Homo sapiens: one gene and its partners. The protein of the gene in region 1 purifies or fractionates together with the protein of each later gene. This does not show direct contact. Each region holds a gene or a part of one and is shown in the gene's direction. Other genes may lie near its edges.

Region 1 (7,000 bases):
CTGTGTCCTGAGCGATGTTAGAATTACCCTTCAGTGTGAGTGCAGGCCTGGCCCTGGCCCCAGCTGTTGCCTGAAAGTGACTAGGGGAGTGTTTTTCATGGAATCAGACTGGAATTCACTGTTCTTTCTTTGTTAGGAGAGATTCAAAATCTGAAAAATTCCAACTTTTACCCCCTAGGATCTTTACCTTATATAGTAAATCTCTGCCCCTCGACCTGGCCTGTCGTATCTGGGACGTGTTCTGTCGCGATGGGGAAGAGTTCCTGTTCCGCACGGCCCTGGGCATCCTGAAGCTGTTCGAGGACATCCTGACCAAGATGGACTTCATTCACATGGCCCAGTTCCTGACCCGGCTGCCCGAGGACCTGCCCGCCGAGGAGCTGTTTGCCTCCATCGCCACGATCCAGATGCAGAGCCGAAACAAGAAGTGGGCTCAGGTCAGCGGGCTTTGTGTTCTTGGCTTCCCACAGCGTAGCCGGCAAGTGGCGCGACTCAGGAAGGCCCCTACGTAAAGTGCTGTCTGAGGACGTAGCCCCTTTGATGGAGTCCCTGGGCTGGAACTGAGGGGGGCCGGGTGGAGACGTGGCTGTGCCACAGGGCGTCTCGGCGGGTCGCCTCCTCTTTGGGTTTCTGTCAGCTGGATGGGGTGTGGATAATGAAAGCCTTCCCACCTCCTCTGCAGTGGCATTGGGAGGGTCAGCACTTGTATCATTATAGTGCTCTTTACATGTTAGAAAGTACTTTGTAAGCCACGTACCCCCCTTTTTAAAAAAAATAATGCCAGAGACAGAAAGCAAAGTGGACCCACTTACTGAGCCCCGTGGCCATGCCCTGTGGCAGGCTTTTGTGTGTGTCCTTGAGAAGGAAGTGGGATTACCCCCCTCTTACAACAAAGGGAGGCCCAGAGAGGAGGGCGCGGGTCCCTCCTGGGTCTTCCCATGCGCTGCTGTGCCCTCTCTGGGCTGAGTGCCCCAAACAGTGGCGCGGATAGTCCGTATCCCTTGGTTTCCCTCCAGGCATCCCTCCTAGGTCCTGTCCCCAGTGGGATTGACCTGCATTTCCTGTTCCGAGTCTTTGTCATACTAAAAAGGAAAAAAAAACCAGTTTGGGTTCTTGATCCTGCATACACTCTGCATTGGTTTGAAGTCCTTGTTGATTGACGTCTATGAAGACTTTTCCTTTTCTGTACGTGCTACACCATGCCTGGGGGATTTCTTTGTTTTGAGAGAGGGTCTCGCTCTGTCATCCAGGCTGGAGTGCAGCCCCCGCCTCCCAGGCTCAGGTGACCATCCCACCTCAGCCCCCCGAAATGTCTGTTCTTGATTTAACTTTTTTTTTTTTTAATGGAAGATTTAAAATATTTACAAAACTAGAACAGCATAAAATAATGCACCCCCACACGCCTGCTCTGCAGTGTCAGTGACTGTGGAAGCGCAGCGGCTGTTGGAGCTGCCTCCCACCTCTCCCCTTCCCACCATATTGAAGCGAGTCCCAGGCACCGTGTCACCTGTTGGTGTTAGCGATCTCTGACTCATATGGGCTCTTTTAACGTAACTGCAATACCGTTACCACTCAGCTACTAACTCCTTCCTATCATCAGATATCCAGTTTTCAAATTCAGATGTCATAAATGGCTTTATAGTTGGTTGGAATCAAGATCTAAATAAAGTCCATGCCTTGTGATTGGTTGAAAGCTCTGTTAAGCCTCTGTAATATCTATGCCACGCCACTTCTCACTTTTTAGCCCTCTCTTGCTTGCCTTTATTTGTCAAAGAAAACAGGTCATTTAGGCTGGGCACAGTGGCTCACACCTGTAATCCCAGCACTTTGGGAGGCCAAGGTTGGGGGATCACTAGAGCCTAGGAGTTTGAGACCAGCCTGGGCAACATAGTGAGACCCCGTCTCTACAAAAAATACAAAAATTAGCTGGGCATGGTGACGTATATCTGTAGTTCCAGCTGCTAGGGAGGCTGAGATGGGAGGACCATTTGAGCCTGGGAGGTCAAGGCTGCACTGGGCTGTGATTGCGGCACTGTGCTTCAGCCTAGGCAACAGAGGAAGACCCTGTCTTAAAAAAACAAACAAACAAACAAAAAAAACAGGTTGGCCAGGTGCAGTGGCTCACGCCTGTAATCTCAACACTTTGAGAGGCTGAGGCAGGTGGATCACGAGGTCAGGAGTTCAAGACAAGCCTGGCCAAGATGGTGAAAACCCATCTCTACTAAAAATACAAAAATTAGCCGGGCACGTTGGCAGGCTCCTGCAATCCCAGCTACTCGGGAGGCTGAGGTAGGAGAATTGCTAGAACCTGGGTGGCAGAGGTTGCAGTGAGCCAAGATCATGCCACTGCACTCCAGCCTGGGCAATAGAGTGAGACTCCATCTCAAAAAAACCCCAAAAAAGCAGGTCATTTGTCCTGTAACATTTCCCACTGGGGGAGAGTTTTATGGCATATACATATGTCACCCCCCCCACACACATCACACACCTATACGTACACAATCACCCCACACACACAATCACCTCCACGCACACACATTGCACATCCATTCACCCCCCATCTCACACACCCACACAATCACCCCCCACACACCTACACATACACAGTCACCCCACACATAGACACGCACAGATCACCCCCACGCACACTCATTGCACACCCACAGTCACACCCCTACACCTCACACCCAGTCACCCCACACACACATCACATACACAATCACCACACACCACAATCACCCGACACGCACATCACACACCCACCCACGCATACAATTACCCTACACAGTCACATCCACACACAATCACCCCACACACATCACACACCCCCACAATCACCCCACACAATCACACACCCACACAAAATCACCCCCCACACATCACACAACCACACACAATCACCCCCCACACATCACACACCCACATACACAATCACCCCACACACATCACACATCCATACACAATCACCCCCTACACATATCACACACCCTTAAATACACAGTCACCCCACACAGGCATACCCACACACACACAGATCACCCCCATGCACACACATTGCACACCCAGTCACCCACAATCACACACATACACAATCACCCCACACAGTTACCCACACGCACAGATCACCCCCCACACACACATTGCCCACCCCCCCACACATAGATCACCACTTACACATCACCCCACACACACCCACACATACATGCACACATCACACACCTACACATTGCATACCCACACACACACCTACAGATCACCCCCCACATACACCTATCACAGCCCCACACACACGTCACCCCACACATCACACCCACACGTACACATTACACACCCACACACCTCACATGCACATACACACCCACGTACAGGTGCAGGTCAGTCCCTGCGCATCCACATACTGCACACCCACATACACAGGAAAGGATTAAACCCAGATCAGCCATTTTGATCCTTGCATATTTTAGGGACTAGGTAAAAACTATTGGTTAAAACTGGGTCAGATTATTTGACCGTAGGACATTGTTATTAATGGGATGGTGATAGGAGTTAGTCTGATGATGGGGGTGGGGGGCTTGGGCATCAGTGACGTGCTGTCAGTTTTTTGTTTGTTTTTTTTTTGAGACGGAGTCTCCACCCTGTTGCCCAGGCTGGAGTGCAGTGGCGCAATCTTGGCTCACTGCAACCTCTGCCTCCCGGGTTCAAGCGATTCTCTTGCCTCAGCCTCCCGAGTAGCTGGGATTACAGGCGCCCGCCTCCATGCCCAGCTAATTTTTGTATTTTTAGTAGAGACGGGGTTTCACCACGTTGACCAGGCTGGTCTCAAATTCCTGACCTCGCGATCCACCTACCTCAGCCTCCCAAAGTGCTGGGATTATAGGCGTGAGCCACCACACCTGGTCCAGGCATCAGTAACTTTTATACAGTTCAGGTCTCATGGGACTTGTGGTCCATGCACATTTCTCTCAAATCCTGTGCTTAAGGTTAAGACACTGGTGAGCTTTCTTTTTCTTTTTCCTTCTTTTTTTTTTTGAGACAGAGTCTCACTCTCATTGCCGAGACTGGAGTGCAGTGGTGCGATCACAGCTCACTGCAGCCTGAACCTCCGGGGCTCAAGCAATTCTTCCACCTCAATCTCCCAAGTAGCTGGGACTGCAGGCATGTGCCATGATACCCAGCCAATATTTGTTTGTTTTTGTAGAGATTTGTTTGCTTTTTTGTTGCTGAGGTTGGTCTCAAACTCCTGGGCCCAAGTGATCTTCCTCCCTTGGCCTCCCAAAGTGCTGGGATTGCAGGCATGAGCCACCACGCCCAGCCATGAGCTTTTTCAAAATGACTAAATGTTTATGTTGAGCCAGCAACCCCATTTACTTCAAGATGCAGGGGGACTTTATCTGCCATTATTCCTTTTCTGCACCTTAATTGAAACCAAAATGCTTTTACTTTTAAATTTGTGACTCAAAGTGGCATGGTTCCTGGCCCCAGGCAGGTAGCACTGTGTTACCAAGATTCTCTTGGTTTCACCCTTGGACTTTGAGCACGTCACTTCCGTACATGTCTGTTGTTCAGGCCCCTCATGTTGGGGCATTAGCCTTCCAGAGTTTGTCGCGTGGGCTAAGCGGGTGCTGGGCGCGAAGCGCTGGCAGAGTTCTCTGCTTGGCGTGGAGCCTGTTAGTGTTGCTGCAATTGCTAAGCAGCCACAATGGCGTGGAATATCTTTTAAAAGAAGGGTGTTGGCCTGGCATGGTGGCTCAAGCACTTTGGGAGGCCAAGGCGGGCGTATCATGAGGTCAGGAGTTCGAGACCATTCTGGCCAATACGGTGAAACCCTGTCTGTACTAAAAATACAAAAATTAGCCAGGCGTGGTGGCACACCTCTGTATTCCCAGCTACTCAGGAGGCTGAGGCAGAAGAATCTCTTGAACCCGGGGGTCAGAGATTACAGTGAGCCGAGATGGCGCCACTCCACTCCAGCCTGGGTGACAGAGCGAGACTCCATCTCAAAAAGAAGAAAAAGAAGGATGTTGACCAAGAACTGTGAGAACAGAGGAGGGAGCAGGCTCTGGGTGAGCTCAGGAAGGCAGGCAAGAGGAACCAGTGCCTTGAGGCCTTCTCAGGTGGCAGGCTTCCTGGTGGAGGAGGAACAGGGTGGCAGGAGTGCAGCGGGATGGGCACAGGGCTTATTAGCATCCTAGCGTTCAGGCCTGGGCTTCCTGGGTGGCCACTGCAGGACCCCAGTGAGGCCCCCAGCTGTGCTTTGACGTGGATTCTGTGGCCGGCTGGAAGGAGTGCAGCTAGCTCACCAGGCCAGAGAGGGCACGGGCAGGTGTCCATGTTGGAAAGACCACGAAGGACGTAGGAGTGGAAGACCCTGGAGGGTTGGAGGCAGTGGAAGTGGGGAGCCGGGGGACCCTGTTAGGAGGCTACTGCTGTCTCTGCTTCGCTGCTGTCAGGATCTGTGTGCGTGGTCACTTAACCTCAGCTGTCTTCCCTGTGACTTCTAGGTACTGACTGCATTGCAGAAAGACAGCCGGGAAATGGAGAAGGGAAGTCCGTCCCTCCGACACTGAGGCTGCAGCGGGAATTCGCACTCGGCACCAATCAGAGCCCCATGCCGCGGCCCCTCTGTTGTTTCAGACTGACACCCGGGCAGCCGAGAAGAACAGACGCTCTTTAAGTTTGATTCCTAACACTGGAGTTGGCCTTAAACAAAACAAACACAAAAACTTTTAAAGAATTAAACCAAGGCTTAGCCTTAAGCAGCTCAGTGGAAGGATGAGCTGCTGCGGACCACAGCCAGCCACTGCATCTGCTGCACAGTTGAACGATGGGCAGTGGCTCACCCCCACTCCTTTATTTCAGCAAAAGCTAATTAAATTGTAATGTTTCTATGTCAACTACTGGGAAGTATGTTACAGTCTTAGCCAGGATGCATGAGAGATGTTATTTGGGAGACTTGAGATGCTTTGGCTGATATTTACATGTTTTCGATAAGAAAGGGATCGCTGATTGAGTTATTGAGATAGTTTTTCCAGAGCTGGAGGTCACGTTTCTAAAACTCACCTACGAAAGATAGCATTAAAGGAACAGGGGCTCTCTGAGGATGGCCACTGATGTGTGTTTGTGGATACCTGGGCATCGACCCAGCCTGCAGGTGAGCTCTGGGCCATGTTGCCTTGACACAGTCACAGTGTAGAGGCTGCAGGTGCACACGTGGGCTCCAGTGGGACTGCGCTCTGGGAGACTGCTCCCTGGCATCGGTCCTGCGGAGGTGGAAAGTTCGAGAGGAGGAGCTATTTGCGAGGAAGCCCTGTGGCAATAGAGATAGGCTTAAAAGCGGAGAGAACACAGAGTGGAATCAGCCCCCTGTAAGTAAAAGGGTAGAGAAAGAGATGTGTGGCTGGGCCCTCTCCCACCTGCCTGTTCAGTGGAGGCCAGGGCAGCAGCCCAGAACAGCACATGTGGGGGAGGTGGCCCCTTGTGCCAGCAGTGGCTCCTCTCTGCCTTTGAGCCCTGCACAGCTGGACCCATCCTAAGTGCCAGTGAGTCCCTCACACATTTGACTTTAGAACGTGTGCTTCATGACCCGTTGTACAGACGGAGGAGCGAGCAACACACGTCTAACAGCCTAGACAATCTCGTCAGATGCTCATACTGGACCATCAGCCTCCCCATTTTAGCTGACTTTCCCAGGGTCGTTGGCAAATTTTTTGTTCTGTCTTTTCCTTGACTAATTGTAGAACTTTGTGTGAGGACTTTGGTTATCCAAAATCACAGAAATGAACCGTTTTGCAGCTGCGCAGTCTAAAGGGCAGGCCAGTGTCTGGAAGCAGGGCCCACGTGGCGGTCCGCTGGCAGGCTGGTCCTGGGGAGCATTCTGCGGACCCGGTCACGGGCTTGGTTAGTCATGCGTACATGTGTGCCTTGGGGTGCTCTGCACTCCACGGCCCTTCTCAGCCACACTTCCCACCCCAGGGGGTGCCCCCAGGCTGATCTCATTTCT
Region 2 (7,055 bases), on another chromosome or scaffold:
GTTGAAAACTACATGTGTATTTTACAGTGTCACATTAGGCCAAGAAGCAGCTAATGTCTACCACAGGGTTTCATAAATATGTATATAATTTCCTGCTTAGAAGTACGTTTCAAATGCTAAACACTAGATTTAGTTAGGATCTATACTCAGATCCCAGCACTTTGGGAGGCCAAGGCTTTGAGACCAGCATGGGTAAGCCAGTCGGGGCAGGATGACAAAACCCCATCTCTGCAAAATAAAAAAATGAAGTAAATTAGCTGGGTGTAGTCGTGCGCCACGGCCTCTAGTCCTAGCTACAGGCTGGAGCCCCAGCTGAGGCTCCTGCCTCAGCCTCCTGAGCCCAGGAGTTTGAGGCCTCAGGGAGCTGTGATTGCGCCACTGTTCTCCAGCGTGGGTGACAGAACAAAACTCCATCTCTTAAAAAAAAAAAAAGTTTTCCTTTGAAAGGGTTGATTAAACTTGTCCGTCTGGCATGGCATTTGAGAAATTCAAAGCTATTGTCCTTTCTGATAAGTTCTAAAATTGGAAGGAGTTGCTATAAACAAATGATTGAAGAACATGTGGCAGCTGAACAAGAGTGAGTGAATGTCTCCTTTGTTCGGGCTAGCAACGATTTATTTATTTGCCTGTTTCTTCTACGTGGAAAAAAATCACAAAGGGCATTTTTCTGTTATTCCCCCATTCCCCCTATTTTTCTGCATTTGTGCCTCTTGTGTGGCCACCAGCAAAGGCTGTCAGATGTGGGACACAGCAGTCAGTCTCTCCAGTGATTCTTCCATTGGAACATTGTGTAGAGAAGCTGAACTCGATTCCCGCAGGGGAGCCGAAGCACCAGCCAGCAGGCCCTGCCCTCCCCATGGCCCAGCGGCTGCAGTGCCAGGCTCATGGCCTGGCTCCTGCTTCCTGCCTAGTGTCCCCTGTCTCTGTCCACTCTCCCCCCGGTCCTGGTATCTTGCCTGCCTTCTGTCTTCCCTGCAGCAGGATTCTCAGAGGCCTCAGCTCACTCCTGCCTCTCATTGCTGTCTTGGAGTGAGGGGGAGCCACCTGACTGCTGACTGTTCTTAACCCAAAAGCCCGTGGCCTGAAGCTGAAAAATCCAGAGAAGGTTTTGAATATTTGAGCAGCACCAGCACAGTCAAGTTTTCTTTACAGTCTCTTCTTAAGCCTCATTATGTGATTCTCTTCTACTACTAATGGGCAGGCAAATTTTGTGACCCTCAGAGACGTAGTCATGATCATAATCCCTGACTTGCTGAACCAAGATGGGTATAAGACTCCTTGACTCACAGGATTCTTTTTTCCCCAGCAAGGTTCTCCTTCAACCCTGTAGTCCACATCATTGAGATGAAAAGTTAGGGCAGAAGGGAATGGAAGTAGAAGGAATTCATGGAGATCCCAAAGGAGCAAATCTTTCATAGTAAAAGAAATAGAGCCCCTTTCACCCCATTGCGGGCCCTGAGATGCTGTCTTCCGGTTGGCAGCGGTGCTGAGCCACGATCTCTTTTCCTTTAGATAGCCTTCTGGCAGGCATTCCTCAGAGAGTCAAGTTCACTGTCACTACCGGCCATTATACGATAAAGAATGGAGACAGCCTGCAGCTTAGCAATGCCGAAGCCATGCTCATCCTGTGCCAGGCGGAGAGCAGGGCTGTGGTCTACTCCAACACGAGAGGTGAGGTGCCGCCCACCCAGGCCCAAGGAGGATGCCCACCTTGCCCTGCACTGTGTGGGTGTGAGGGTGAGCCTGGCCTTGCTGCCATCCTGCTGAGCGCCCCTCAACAGTGTCTGGAGTCCGTGTTCCATAGGAGCCCTGCGGCCTGATGCCTGTGCTGGGGTCCCATCTGAGGTGATAAACTGAGAGTGGTTCACACGCTGAGTGGCCGAGCAGTGCTTGTCTGGCTGAGGATTAGGAGATGGGGGTCACGGCTGGGGTCACGTTCCATGGTGATGCCTGCCAGACCCTGTCCCCCTTGGGCTGGCCCTGCTCCCGAGAAGCAAAAGCAGAGCAGCCCTTGCAGGTGCTGTTGAGAGCCCTGAGCACTCCCATCCTCCCAGCCACGAGGAAGGGGAAGGGGAGGACCCTGCTCCCCTGGGGTGGGGGTGGATCTGCGGATGAGCTGGAACGGGAGAAAGTCATGCAGGGACCTACACAGGACTTGGGTGGGCCCCGTGGGAAATGCCCTTTTCCTCTCTTCAGATTGAGATCAATGATGGGTCTGGGCGCCTGCCTGCCGGCTTTCACACAGGGCTGCTCTGTCCTAGGGGCCTTGTTCTTGGGTTTGCCTGCCAGGTGCGCAGGAGCGGGAGAGGTTGAGCAGTGGCCTCACTGCTGGGCCATCACCTGCTGTAAGGAAAAGGACAAGTGAAACCGAGGGAACAGCTTTGAAGTGACTTTTTCTGTCCTTCGTAGAACAGTCTTCTGAGGCCGCGCTCCGGATTCAGTCCTCCGACAAGGTCACGAGCATCAGTCTGCCTGTTGCGCCTGCGTACCACGTGATCGAATTTGAACTGGAAGTTCTCTCTTTACCTTCAGCCCCAGCACTCGGAGGGGAGAGTGACATGCTGGGGATGGCAGAGCCCCACAGGAAGCATAAGGACAAACAGAGAACTGGCCGCTGCATGGTTACCACAGACCACAAAGTGAGTAGGGACAGTGGAGGAGCTTAGCTTGTGGGGCGTCCGCCGCCCGCCTGCCTGCTGGGAAAGGCGATGTAGCGATGCCTGCTGTTAGCCTGGCTCCTTCTGATTCCCGATGCCCTGGGCATGTGTTTAGCAGTTCTGTCTGTCTGTGAATCACCCTTTCTTAGATAAGGGGTGCATTTTTTGCAAGGGCAGAGACAAGCCAGCTCTACCTTTCCCTCTCAGTTCCAGGGGCCAGGGAGTTTGCTGTAAGAGGTTAGGGCCGGCTTAGGCATGAGGGGCGTAAAACTTGGGTCATGTCCATTAGACCGGTGACGAGGCCAGAGGAGGTCTGTGTCGTGTGTGCCTCGGTGTCTGTCCACTGAAACTCATAAGCTCAGCCACGGAGGAGCTGTCTCATTTTAGGCTTTGGTGCTGGTACTTACTGACAGTTACTTGAGAAAGATGTGATTTCGGTCCCAGAGCCACAGGATATCAGCTCATGGAATGTGTCGCTGCATCATGTTACTCAGGGTGTGCCCAAGTCTCGTAGCCCAGAAATCAATCCTGAGGGCCCTGAAACAGCCCAGGGGCCGCAGTATACGCCCAAGAGCAGCGGGGGCAAAGGGCAAGGCATGCCGTCTTTCCAAAGCACGGAGTCACCAGACAAGTCCACGCCTGAAGACGAATGTTGTAATGTTCAGCTTTTGAAGAACCTGAGGAAGTGTCTTTCCCTTAACTCACACAGACGTTCACCATTCACGAAGGTGGCGCTTAGCTCAGCAGGAGCGCGCAGCACTGGTGGCACCTGTGCTATGTGCCGTGTTATCCCGCTCTTCCCTGGCGCTGGTGGCACCTGTGCTGTGTGCCGTGTTATCCCACTCTTCCCTGGCGCTGGCGGCACCTGTGCTGTGTGCCATGTTATCCCACTCTTCCCTGACACTGGCGGCACCTGTGCTATGTGCCGTGTTATCCTCTCTTCCCTGGCGCTGGCGGCACCTGTGCTGTGTGCCGTGTTATCCCACTCTTCTCTGGCGCTGGCGGCACCTGTGCTGTGTGCCGTGTTATCCTCTTTTCCCTGGCACTGGCGGCACCTGTGCTGTGTGCCGTGTTACCCCGCTCTTCCCTGGCGCTGGTGGCACCTGTGCTATGTGCCGTGTTATCCTCTCTTCCCTGGCGCTGGTGGCACCTGTGCTATGTGCCGTGTTATCCTCTCTTCCCTGGCGCTGGTGGCACCTGTGCTGTGTGCTGTGTTATCCTCTCTTCCCTGGCGCTGGTGGCACCTGTGCTATGTGCCGTGTTATCCTCTCTTCCCTGGCACTGGCGGCACGCACGCTGTGTGCTGGGGTATTCACCTCTTCCCTGTGGGGAATAAGGCTTGAGACTTGCTTCCTTCCTGCCCTTAAGGGATGTAATAGCTTTGTCCTCACTGTGCCCCTAAACTGATTTGGTTTTCAGTTACATATTCAGCCTCACATGGATTAAATGCTTAGATAATTCATTAACTATGGAGTAGTTACTGATTGGCTAATGTCATCTGGAAATACATGACTGAAAGCACTTTGTCAAAACCCTGTGCACATTGCAACATGCATGGCTCCGCGGCCCTGCGTGTATGGGAGCAGCAGGTGGGTCTGCTGCTTAGAGGACGGCTGTGCTCTTCCGCCGTTGAGGTGACTCTGGTGATGTGTGCATGTCTTGCCAGTTCTGCGTTCGTTTCTCTTGTCTGTATGCATAGCTTCCTGTTTCTCGTTGGTTTGTGTATGTGTTGGGTAAGGCTTTGCTTCCTGGATAATGAGTGGTTGAAGCCATAATAAAATGTCTAGGGCGTGGGCGGGCACTGCAGGTGAGTCTGGGCAGCAGTGGTGGTGGCTGTGCTGTCCGTCGGCGAGTGGTCTGAGAGTGTCTTTGTGCTTCCTCCTCAGGTGTCGATTGACTGCCCGTGGTCCATCTACTCCACAGTCATCGCACTGACCTTCAGCGTACCCTTCAGGACCACACACAGCCTCCTGTCCTCAGGAACACGGTAACGGAGGCGTAGCGTGCGGGCCCTGGCTTCTTTCCCCAGACTCTTCTAAGTGGAGGTTCCTAATGTTCAAAACTGGCCTTCGTGGTGACCAAGGATGTCTTCTTATGTGACCACAAGGCCATTGTTTGTGTCTTAAAATCCACAATTCCCTGGTGTCCTGTGACATCCAGTTCATATTCAGGTTTTCCCAACTGTCTGAAAATGACCTTTTATGGTTGCTTTGTGTGACTTGGGGTCCAAAATCTCCATCAGACCACTAGATCTCTGTTCATCCTTTCTTCCCTGTTTTCAAGCCATCGACTTGTTCACTTGCAGGCCAGGTTTCCTCTGGACGCCCGCCTTTCTGGATCTGGCTGGATTTGTTAACTAGTTCTCCTGTCCCTGTATTTCTTGTCAATTGCCTGCAACCTCTAGAACAGGAGCTTTTAAGCTCAGCATTAGTGACATTTTGGGCTAGATAACTCTGTTGTAGGGGCTTTCCTGTGTGCTGTAGGGTGTTGAGCAGCACCCCAGGCTCTCCCATGAGATGCCAGTAGCACTCCCCACCTGCAGGTGTGGCAGCCACAGATGTCTGTAGACACTGCCCAGTGTCCTCTGGGTGGGGCGGACGTGCCCCAGTGGAAAACAGCTGCCCTAAAGGCTTGAGTAGACTCCAGTTCTGCTTTGAGGCAGGCGGGGCTGTGTGCTTCCTGTTGACTGCACCGGGAGGCCCACGGTGTCCAGGTGTCCTACCTTAGTGACGGTGCTAGCGTTGATCAATGGGCTCGGGATGCTAGCCTGGCCTCTCACCACAACTTTTTATCCATTGATGATGTGTGGATAATTTGGAAACAAAAACGTCAGACCCATGTTTAGAATGGAACATTATACTAGCAGCTTTTTTCCCCTTCAAATCACAGCAAAGGGAACTGTAGATATTAATAGTTAAAAACATCAATAATCTCTAAAAGAACCTTATTAAAAAATTATTTTTCAGCCGGGCGTGGTGGCTCATGCCTGTAATCCCAGCACTTTGGGAGGCCGAGGCAGGCGGATCACGAGGTCGGGAGTTCAAGACCAGCCTGACCAACATAGTGAAACCCCGTCTCTACTAAAAATACAAAAATTAGCCGGGCATGGTGGCGGGCGCCTGTAATCCCAGCTACTCGGGAGGCTGAGGCAGGAGAATCACTTGAACCTGGGAGGCAGAGGTTGCAGTGAGCTGAGATCGTGCCATTGCACCCCAGCCTGGGCGACAAGAGCAAGACTCTGTCTCAAAAAATAGTAACTATTATTAATATTTTCAAAGTTTTGCATGTAATGGAAATGGATATAAGCCCCGCCTATCATCTCTCAATGGAGAGTCTTCACCTGTAATGAGGAGGGCTGCTGCTGTCTCCCCGTGGCTCCCCAAAGGCCAGTGAGGGTGACCAGCCATGATCACTTAATAAGGCTGGTCAGAAACTATATTCTTTCTTCCATTGCCTCACAGAACTTGCCTCTTTAAAAACTTTTTTTATTTATTTTTATTTGTTATTTTTTTGAGATGGAGTCTCGCCCTGTCACCAGGCTGGAGTGCAGTGGCGTGATCTCAGCTCACTGCAACCTCCACCTCCCAGGTTCAAGCAATGCTCGTGCCTCAGCCTCCCGAGCAGCTGGGATTACAGACACGTGCCACCACGTCTGGCTAATTTTTATATTTTTAGTAGAGATGGGGTTTCACCATGTTGGCCAGGATGGTCTCAATCTCCTGACCTCATAATCTGCCCACCTCGGCCTCCCAAAGTGCTGGGATTACAGGCGTGAGCCACCGTGCCCGGCCAAAAAGGTTTATTTTCTGGCACTTTTCGGTGTGAAATCTGAAGGGAAACTTATGCAACAACTTAGCTTACTTTGCTTTGTTGCTTTTTTGATTCCCCAGGCAGAGAGGGTCTCCTTAACAAAGCTAAGATATATTTAATAAAGTTCTTACATATCAAAATAATACTTTTTGTTTTTCCACTTTAGGAAATATGTTCAAGTTTGTGTCCAGAATTTGTCAGAACTTGACTTTCAGCTGTCAGATAGTTATCTTGTAGATACCGGTGATAGTACCGACCTGCAACTAGTACCACTGAACACGCAGTCCCAGCAGGTAAACATTGTGTAGACCTGAGCATAAACTTCTCAACAGAGAACCAGAGTGTACGGAAATGATGTAGTATGTGTTGCGACTGAGCCTTTAGATAGAACAGCTGCACTGCTGATGAGTAAAGGCTCCTGTGCAGCTCCTCCGGCTGCCCTGAGGCTGGATCGAGGCTTGCTCCTGAGTAAGCGGGTGGCTGGATGGATGAATTCTTCTTTTTAGAAGAATTAAATCTGAAACTGGTCCCACTCTATGCGTAGACGTGTGCAGATCCAAGCTTCTGTTTGAACGCACTGTTGATTGC
Region 3 (2,852 bases), about 180 Mb from region 1:
CACATGTGACTATTGAGATTCAGTTTAAATTAAATTTGCTTAGTTACACTGCCACATTTCAAGTGCTCAATCGCTAAATGTGACTAGCGACTGCCATACCAGACAGTGACGTCCTAGGCAAGGATGAATCCATACTTTTCTTCCTTTGAATAAAAGGCTTTGGTTTTCTAATTGTATGATGCACTCATTTTTTGCTCTTGCTTGTAAAAGCTACATTTGGCAGGGATTTCACTAGCTTGAGCCATGATTTTGTTTCTAAAATTGAGCAGCTCCCATCAGTACTAAAAAAACAGTCAAGAATCAAGGATCGGGAACCTATTTCACTCACTCCATTCCTGCCGTGAATGTCTGGAAGCTATACTTAGCTATGTTTCTGTATGTATGTACACACACACTGCTATATACATCTGAACAACCACAGCAGCAGCAAACTGAAAGCAGGAGTGCTGTCTTCACTGCCTCGGGAATGCCTCAGAATCTTTCTGCTTAAAGCATAGCAAATCACTTTTGATTGTGAACACTCTTCTGTTTCATTTCCTGATCATCTTTCTCCTGCTTTCCCCACAAAGGTCTGCTATTGTATATCTGTATAATAAAATAAAATTATTTGTAAGAATTGTATTCTTTTAGCTACTAGCTATCCCTCTGGGATGTTGTTAACCTGCCAGAAATTTTACAACTAAAAACAGTTACGATACCTTTTATTCATTCTTAGTCTTGACTTTTCTGACGTGATGTTTTAAATTCTTTCAATCAGTGATCTTAGAGATAGGGCAGTTTTTGTTTTTATCTGCCACTTTTATCCTTGCAGCATGCATTGGAGTTCACTGCAGACACTTTTTCTCAAACAGGAGATTGGGCAACCTTGAGTCCCCAAAAGGAACTTACCTGTCAGCTCAGGCTCTGGACCTGCTTAAAGCTTGAGACACAGGAGGGCCCTGAGCAAGAGAGAGAGAATAAAACTATCAGTTAAGTAGGAATGATAAACAAGGTTCCATTCCACATGTGGGAGATGGCCTGGCAGTAGCTGCTGGAACGCAGGGTTGAGAGAGAAGTACTGACAGAAGAGGATTCTTCGGGTGGAAGTGCAGAGTCAGCTGGTGATGGCTACAGGAGAGGGCAGCTCCCAGCCTGTGCCGTGGCCATCCCCAGGTGCAAGTGAAGAAAGAAAGAGGTGGGGTGAAAGGAGGAGAATCACCATATCACCATTTTTATTTTGATGCTTACACTCATTTATTCTGTTTTTGTAAAACAGTTTCAAGAATTTAAAAATCCTTCCAGTTAATAGAGCTTTTGTTATTATATTATAATTTTGTAAACCCACTTTGTTTTTCCCACTTTAAAGCCACAGGGTCGACTCATGGATGATACCTCTATTGCTGCTGCATGATGTTCAAGACCGGCCCTTGGCTGTTGTTACAGAGATGTTGGGCAGAGCTATGCAGGTGTTTCATTGTGAACTCTAGCTTTGATCATGGTAAAAAGTTAACCTTTTCTATTTTTTAATGGATGTTATACCAACTATTCAGAGGAACTCATACTTCAAAAATATTAGGAAAATCTGTCTTATAGTTTCTCTAATAAATATCTGAAATCTCAGTACGACATGAAAGAATGTCAGACCATTGTTATTGTTGAAAGTCATTTGATGAATGGTAAATTCTATGAAAAGTAAGTGATTTGCATGTATAATATCAGGAAAATTAAGCATCCCAAGTGTGACTGGACAAAGAGAGCAGATGCACCAGTGCCTGTGCCATAAAGTTCCGAATCCCCCATGTGTCTCTTTCAGAGCTGGCCAGACCGGAAATAAATCATTCTCATAAATTCAGTGTGTACTCAGAACACATACACAACAACATAGGGAGTTGTATGACTGATACGGAAAACTTCCAGAAAGTTTTAATCAAAGCAGTTTAATTAAGGTATCAAAAATATCTTTGCTTACTATCAAGAAGTGTCAAATAGGTTCAGCTTGCTGCCAAAATATGGATCATTTATGAAGCAGGTTCATATTTTAGAGGTGTTAATAAAATCCTCATCGGAAAAGATCCAAAGTGCAAGGATTTGATTATAAACATAATTTCCTAGACTGAAAGTTTTTGGAAAAGATGCAGGGTCTGAGTCAGGCCTTCTGGTTATATTGTGCAGTTTCAAAAGAACTATTTAAAACTCTTGAAAACTCATGTAAATAAAAATCATAGGGTGAAAATTGTATTTGTTAAAATACCTTAATAATTTAAAATGACCTGATTTCCTGGAAAATTTTATTATTCAAAAGGTGGAGGCATTGTAAAAAGGAAATAGTGATGTAAATAAACATGTTCTCTTTCAAGTATGCTTGTCTGTCTCTATCTTTTATTTTGAGCTTGTTTGATTTCAGCTTCATGGAACAGCTTTTACTAAGAACACTGTTGCATGAGATGCAATGGCAAGCACAGGATTGAAAATTGGGCTGTGTTCTAGAACTGGCTCTGGTAACATTATGTGAGAGTTGGACAGTGCTATCTTGGGAGGACATGAGCTCCCTGTTGTAACATGGCTTTTCAGGTAGAGGCCATGGAGCATGACTCTAGAGTCCAGCTGTCTAGGATCAAATCCCTCCTCTGCTGCTTTTGTCTGGGTGACGTTGTTCAAGTTCCTTACCCTCTGTGTATCTCAGCGTTCTTGTATATAAGATGTAAATAACACCCATCTTATAGGCTTGTTATGAAGGATGATATAGATTCATACATGAGAAGAGCTTGGAACAGTGCCAGACCCAAAGTTATGTATGAGGGTGCTCAGCCAGTGTCATCTATATTTTTATGGGAAGGCTGAAGAGGGTATTCACTTTTCTACTGGAGAGTTCC
Region 4 (6,487 bases), on another chromosome or scaffold:
CTTCCCCTTTCCCCCAAAGAATTCTCGCTGTACTGAGTTACTGTCACTGTGTTTGTTAGAATGGGAACAGAAAAAAGAATACAAACCTTAAGGTAGTTTATGATGAAAAAGTGGAGGCATCTTTACAGGAGAGGTAGTAGAAAGAAATCATTAAGAACTACATCAGCCACCCTGAGGTATGGAAGATGTTGGAAGAAATACAGCATCTATTGTTGAGAGGACAATACAGTTAAAGATAGATGTAGAAACACAAAGAGAAGAGATGGAGGATATAAGGAAGCATTCTTAATTTAATGGGGGTTTCAGAAAACAAGTAGAAATGTGAGGAAATGGGACAGTAGGAGGTTTGGTCATGGTAGTGGGACACAGAGCAGTAGAGGTATGAGAATAGAAGAAAGAATAGGTGACAGGAGATAACAAAGATAAAATCATACTATGTTTAGCTGCCATGAGCATAAATTGTTATATTAAATAATGTTTATGGAGCTTTTGAACATGTGCTAGTCACCATTCTCAGCACTTAACATGTTTTACCTAATCACAACAAACCCAAGAGGTAGAATCAATTATTATTCTTTGCAGTTTACAGTTGAGAAAACTGAGGTACAGGTAGCAGTCTGACTCTAGAGCCCAGCTTTTTCACTGGATGCAGTGGTGGGAGAATAGTTGTCAGAACTTTGATTTCTCAGCCCTGTTTGTGGTTCATTAGATTAGCATTTTAGAAAAACTAATGTGTAAAGCAGTTTTCAAAATGTGGTCCCAAGACTGGACCTGGTGGCACACACCTGTAATCCCAGCACTTTGGGAGGCCAAGGCGGGCGGATCTCCTGAGGTCAGGAGTTCAAGACCAGCCTAGTCAACATGGTGAAACCCCATCTCTACTAAAAAATAAAAAAAAATTAGCCGGGTGTGGTGGCGAGCGCTTGTAATCCCAGCTACTGGGGAGGCTGAGGCAGAATAGCTTGAACCTGGGAAGCTGAGGGTGCAGTGAGCCAAGATCGTGCCACTGCACTCCAGCCTGGGCAAAAAGAGCAAAACTCCATCTCAAAGAATAAAAAACAACAACAACAACAACAACAACAACCAAAATGTGATCCCAGACCAGGAGCATTAGTATTAGTATCATCTGGGAACTTAGAAATGTAATTTCTGTTTTTTGTTTTTTTTTTTTGAGACGGAGTCTTGCTCTGTCACCCAGGCTCGAGTGCAGTGGTGTGATCTCGGCTCACTGCAAGCTCCACCTCCTGGGTTCATGCCATTCTTCTGCCTCAGCCTCCCGAGTAACTGGGACTATAGGCACCTGCCACCACGCCCGGCTACTTTTTGTATTTTTAGTAAAGACGGGGTTTCACCATGTTAGCCAGGATGATCTTGATCTCCTGACCTTGTGATCCGCCCGCCTCGGTCTCCCAAAATGCTGGGATTACAAGCGCAAGCCACCGTGCCCAGCCTAGGAATGCAATGTTTGGGCCACACTCCAGACCTATGGAATCAGAATCTCTGAGAGTAGGCCCAGCAGGTTTTTTAAAACAAGCTTGCCAGGTATTTCTGGTGCATACTCAAGTGTGAGAAACATGGTTAAAGAATAGATTGCATTGTGGTGCTAATTAAGAGGCTCTTGCAGTAAAATGAGACATGAGACTTGAACTTGTAAGGAAAATGAGATACAGTGAAGTAACCAGGTTCCAGAGATGTGTGGGTGAGAGAATTGGCAGGAATTTGTGAAGAACATTGGGAGTGGAGGTTAGTGACTGTTAGGAGGAATCAGTATGATACTTACAGTTTGCTGGGGTAGATGGGGGTGCTCTTCACTGGAATGAAGATGATGAGTTTCACTTTGGACCAGGAGATATCCACATGTTCACATTTCTTCTTCTACTAGAAGCATTTGTATAAGGTACAAAGAATTTGACATTTGAGGATCAAATGGGAACAGAATAGCATAAGTTCCTGAATTTTTACTTTGGGCTACAAATTATGCAATTGGAACTTAATTTAATGAGATGCTTCAGACTGACTGGACACCTACCCAGTAGTCTTTGTTGCCCTTCTTGCCACATGAGAAGTTTGTGGGGGAAGTTAGGGCATAGCACCAGTACAACCTGGTATGTATTTTAAATCATCTTAGTTTTTGTTTAGGGAAACCTGTGACGTTTGCGGTATTGTTTAAAAAGTATTTCTCAGTAAGAAGATATAAAGTTTCTGAAAGTATAAAATATATTATCTGAGCAGAATTTAAAAGTTAATGTGTATGAACTTATACGGTTACTATTTTTTCTTCTTTACTATCTTTGTGTTTATAGAGTAAAAGGTAGATAATAGTATATAACCCTGCTTCATTTGTACATGTTATATTCATTTCTTGCATTCTTGATTTGAAATCTGTACCACTCTATTCGCATGTCCTCTTCTATCACTGCCTTTTTTCCTATGCTTTAGTAATTTATTAATTATGGTATCAGAAACTAGGCTACCTGAGCAAAATGTATCCACTCGAAAGAGATTTCCTCATAACTATATAGAAATCATTCTTATATTCTTCAAAACATGATGTTGTGCAAATTTGATAGAAAAACAAATGTCAGTCTAGGCCAAGTTCTCAAAATTAAGTAATTTTTAATAAGCACAAAGACAACAGTATTAGTTGTTGGCATTTTCATGGTTTACTTTTTCTTCATTGATCTAAGTTGAGATTTTGTTTTTCATTTTGTGAAATATCTAGAAACATTTTAGTTGTTTTTAGAAGATTAATAAATGAAAATAAAATAGTTCTGTGAATGTATATATTCTGATATTTAATATTGTCATTGTATTAATATATTTTTTATTTACAATATAATTTGTCTTGAGTGATTTTGGAACTTGAGCTTTTTCCTTCTTGAATCTGATTGTTTTTAAGGAGCTTATGCTCTGTTACATAGTCTTAAGTGTTATTTTCAGGAAAATTGCTTTTAAGAAGAAAAAAATATATAACTTTTTTGTTTATTTTTCTTCCATAGCCTTTGTTTAGTACCAGTCACTCTTTTACTTTCCAATTGTTCTAAGGCTGATGTAGATGTCATAGTTGATCTTCGGCATAAAACAACAAGGTAAAGATTTGTTTAGTGCAAGGTTATTTGATTTGGGAGCAATTTAATATTTTGAAATTATGCAAATAATTACCTAACATGGATAAGAAAGTTACTCAAGCTTGTCCTGGTTTTTTGTTTGGTAATATAGAAGGCTTACAGATGTGTTACAGAGGCTTTAAATATTAAAGATTTTTTTTTCTTGATTATAAAATAGTACTTAACAACAAAAAAAAATCCAGATCCACAGTCCCACATCAGATACTCCTAGAGCCAAATGCTTTTGGGAATTCAGAAATTTTTGAATTTTTGGAAAAATACTATAAAGCGTATACTTAATATTTTTGTATAACACCCCAAACAGGATCTGGGACAGTTCTCTGAAATCCAAACACACACCTATATATGTGATTTTGTGTATCATAAATTTATTAATACTTTATTGGGTACTGGGTTTTCCATTTTTCAATATTATAAACAGTTTCAATATTAAAAGCATTCATGTACAGACACTTATATATGGCTAACTAAGGAGTTAAAAGTTTAGGTTTGAAATCAAGTTCCAACATATACTAACTCTTAGGGCATTAAATGAAATAATCCACTTTTAGCATTGTGCCTAGAGAATAGAAACTATTAAATAATAAATGTTAGCTGTTATAGTAATGATGTTGCTATTATTAATAAACAGTTGGCTTCATAAAATAATTTTTAGAAATAGAATTGTTAGATGAAAGGGATGTTTGTTTTCTTCTTGAGATGGAGTCTTGCTCTCTCATGGGCTGGAGTGCAGTGGTGCAATCTCAGCTCACTGCAACCTCCGCCTCCCAGGTTCAAGTGACTCTCCTGCCTCAGCCTCCTGAGTAGCTGGGATTACAGGCGTGCACCACCATACCTGGCTAATTTTGTATTTTTAGTAGAGACGGGGCTTCATTATGTTGGTAGGCTGGTCTTGAACTCCTGATCTCAGGTGATCCACCTGCCTCAGCCTCCCAAAGTGCTGGGATTACAGGCGTGAGCCACCGCGCCCAGCTGAAAGGGATATGTTAATGTGACTTTGGGAAAAAAATTAAAAAGAAAAAAATCCTGCAACTTACATTTTCCTCCTCCCTTAGTCCAGAAGCACTGGAAATCCATGGATCATTCACATGGCTTGGACAAACACAGTATAAACTTCAACTTAAAAGCCAGGAGATTCACAGTCTGCAGCTGAAAGCATGCTTTGTTCATACAGGTGTTTATAACCTTGGAACTCCTAGGGTATTTGCCAAGTTATCGGACCAAGTTACAGTGTTTGAAACAAGTCAGCAGAATTCCATGCCTGCCCTGATCATCATCAGTAATGTGTGACAACTTGGAAATTTGTACTGAAATCCACAATAATCAGTTTTTGCTGGATGGGTTTTACAGCAGTATTTGATATACCTAACTTGTTATGGAGGTTGATTGATATCTGATCCCTGCAAAATACTTTGACTTGTCATTTTGTTGATGATGCAAAGCACGTTGGACTGAGAATACTTAACATTCTTTTTCTGTATTTCTTTAAACCCTGAGAATAATTTACATGCTCATAATACAGGATATCAGCATATTTGTGCACCTTATTAAGCCCCATCTTAAGAAAACACAAAGTCTAAGTCTGCTGTTACAACTTGTCAATGGTATACGAATATTAGGAGATGATTCTGAGAAAGGAAAGGCCTTGTTGGCAGTACTCCTGTTAAGCCATTAGTCTCTAAATTCCAGCTTTACTGTGAAGTTCTATAGAGTGTTAAATACAAATTTTCCTGTCTTGCTTCACACAGTTCCTTAAAATCAGTTTTGAACTTTGGTCATAGAGTCTTCATATTTCAGTATTTGGTGGTCCCTATGACTTATACATAACTTTGTAAAAAGAAAAAAAAATTTTTTCTGATGCTTTGAATATAGTTTTGAAAGGAGTTTTGACTTTTTTCCCCTCATTCATCTCAGTATAGAGTGCGCTATTTCACAATACGATTTTTGTCATTAAAATTACCATATTCTTTATTATATAACGTTAACTATTGAGTTGATCTGTTTAAAATATAAATCTCAAGTTAATTAAAAATAAGCTTTTCAAAAATGTATTATATTTATAACAAATATACTGTAAATAGAATAAAGACATGCTATTCACTGTATAGCGTATTAGTATCTGTTGATTAGAAAGTCTGGTTTCAAAATATTTTTTTATTCAGAGAATGGGCATTTGGACATAAGAAATTTCAATTCAGCCCTGCTGCAGATAGAGAAATGGGAGCAAGGTTGTTTCAATGAATATCTCTTGTCATTGGAGAAGGAGGGAAGACAGGGTGTAGGAGTGGGTGGCAGGGAGTACAAGAGCCAGGGTCAGTCAAGTCTGGAGCAGATGGGGTCCTTGTGCCATTGACAGCTACCATGGTTTGTTCCAGTCTCAATCTCGGCACTAATCGGAGCAGACTGCACCAAAGTGGGGAGAGATCAAAAGACCCCGTTTTCAGACTGAAGATTCCAAACCTGTACTTGGAACAACTCTTCTTGAGAGATGGGTGGCTAGTCTGTGTGCCTCTCTGCAACTGCTGCTTATGCTTCTGGATCTTAAGTGGGTCTCTGGCTTTTCAGCTCCTTCCACTCTGTGTCTTAGCAGGTGTGGGACAAGTTGGAGAGGAAGGTCACATTCTAAGGACACTCATTTCCTTCTTGAGAGTTTAGGGCCATGGGCTTATAAAAAGTCTGAGGAGGAAAGACAAGAATGAGGAGGCATAATCACAGTGGTATCTCATATTTAAACCACTCAGCTGAATATTAAATTGAACCGATTGTTAAACAGACACTAATAAAAAAATTAAACTATATAAACCTACAACTGAATATATTAAAAATAAAGGTAATAAAGCACTCAAAATTACTTCCTGAATATTACTCAGGATTATTTATGTCTATTTTATCTGTATCCTGGAAATACTACACAATGGTGTGTTTCTGCTCATCTCTTGCCAACCCTACATTCAGTGACTTGCTGGTAGCTTGAAATCAATGATAGTAGAATGTTTACCTCAGGAAAACCAGCAAATGCTACACACCAGGGCTTGATTTATTTATTTTTGTTGTCTACGCTAGACCTAAGAAAGTGATGGAGAAAATGTTAGTGATGCATATTAAAAGTGTTGCATATTTGTAGCTGTAACGAGTAGCACAAATAGTTTAGGAAAATATTCCTGCAGTATCTGAAAAGTTTTACCCAGTTCAACAAAGAAGTTGCCCGTATCACTGATGAACTAGTGAAGATCCAACATGTGTTTTCTCACTTCCTCTTCCTCGTTAATGTAAACAGAAATATCAACCAGCATTCATACTAAAATTATTCTCGCTTATCAATTGCAACATAGGTTGGTTTTCTATACAAGAGCTCAGCA

Evidence for each region.
Region 2: the proteins of TBC1D14 (region 1) and TRAPPC10 purify together in Homo sapiens (affinity purification with mass spectrometry; 2 studies listed by BioGRID and IntAct, with this or other methods). This does not show direct contact.
Region 3: the proteins of TBC1D14 (region 1) and TRAPPC11 purify together in Homo sapiens (affinity purification with mass spectrometry; 2 studies listed by BioGRID and IntAct, with this or other methods). This does not show direct contact.
Region 4: the proteins of TBC1D14 (region 1) and TRAPPC8 purify together in Homo sapiens (affinity purification with mass spectrometry; 2 studies listed by BioGRID and IntAct, with this or other methods). This does not show direct contact.

The regions. Positions count from the first base shown.
Region 1 is NC_000004.12:7,024,826-7,031,825, forward strand, and holds part of TBC1D14 (TBC1 domain family member 14), read left to right. Parts: intron 1-178; coding exon 179-437; intron 438-5,501; coding exon 5,502-5,567; 3' UTR 5,568-7,000. UniProt on the Homo sapiens protein: Plays a role in the regulation of starvation-induced autophagosome formation.
Region 2 is NC_000021.9:44,085,290-44,092,344, forward strand, and holds part of TRAPPC10 (trafficking protein particle complex subunit 10), read left to right. Parts: intron 1-1,512; coding exon 1,513-1,671; intron 1,672-2,409; coding exon 2,410-2,639; intron 2,640-4,543; coding exon 4,544-4,644; intron 4,645-6,633; coding exon 6,634-6,760; intron 6,761-7,055. UniProt on the Homo sapiens protein: Specific subunit of the TRAPP (transport protein particle) II complex, a highly conserved vesicle tethering complex that functions in late Golgi trafficking as a membrane tether.
Region 3 is NC_000004.12:183,711,255-183,714,106, forward strand, and holds the end of TRAPPC11 (trafficking protein particle complex subunit 11), read left to right. Parts: intron 1-1,345; coding exon 1,346-1,390; 3' UTR 1,391-2,335; downstream 2,336-2,852. UniProt on the Homo sapiens protein: Involved in endoplasmic reticulum to Golgi apparatus trafficking at a very early stage.
Region 4 is NC_000018.10:31,828,686-31,835,172, reverse strand, and holds the end of TRAPPC8 (trafficking protein particle complex subunit 8), read left to right. Parts: exon of another isoform or gene 1-2,861; intron 2,862-2,999; coding exon 3,000-3,089; intron 3,090-4,183; coding exon 4,184-4,418; 3' UTR 4,419-5,976; downstream 5,977-6,487. UniProt on the Homo sapiens protein: Plays a role in endoplasmic reticulum to Golgi apparatus trafficking at a very early stage. Maintains together with TBC1D14 the cycling pool of ATG9 required for initiation of autophagy. Involved in collagen secretion.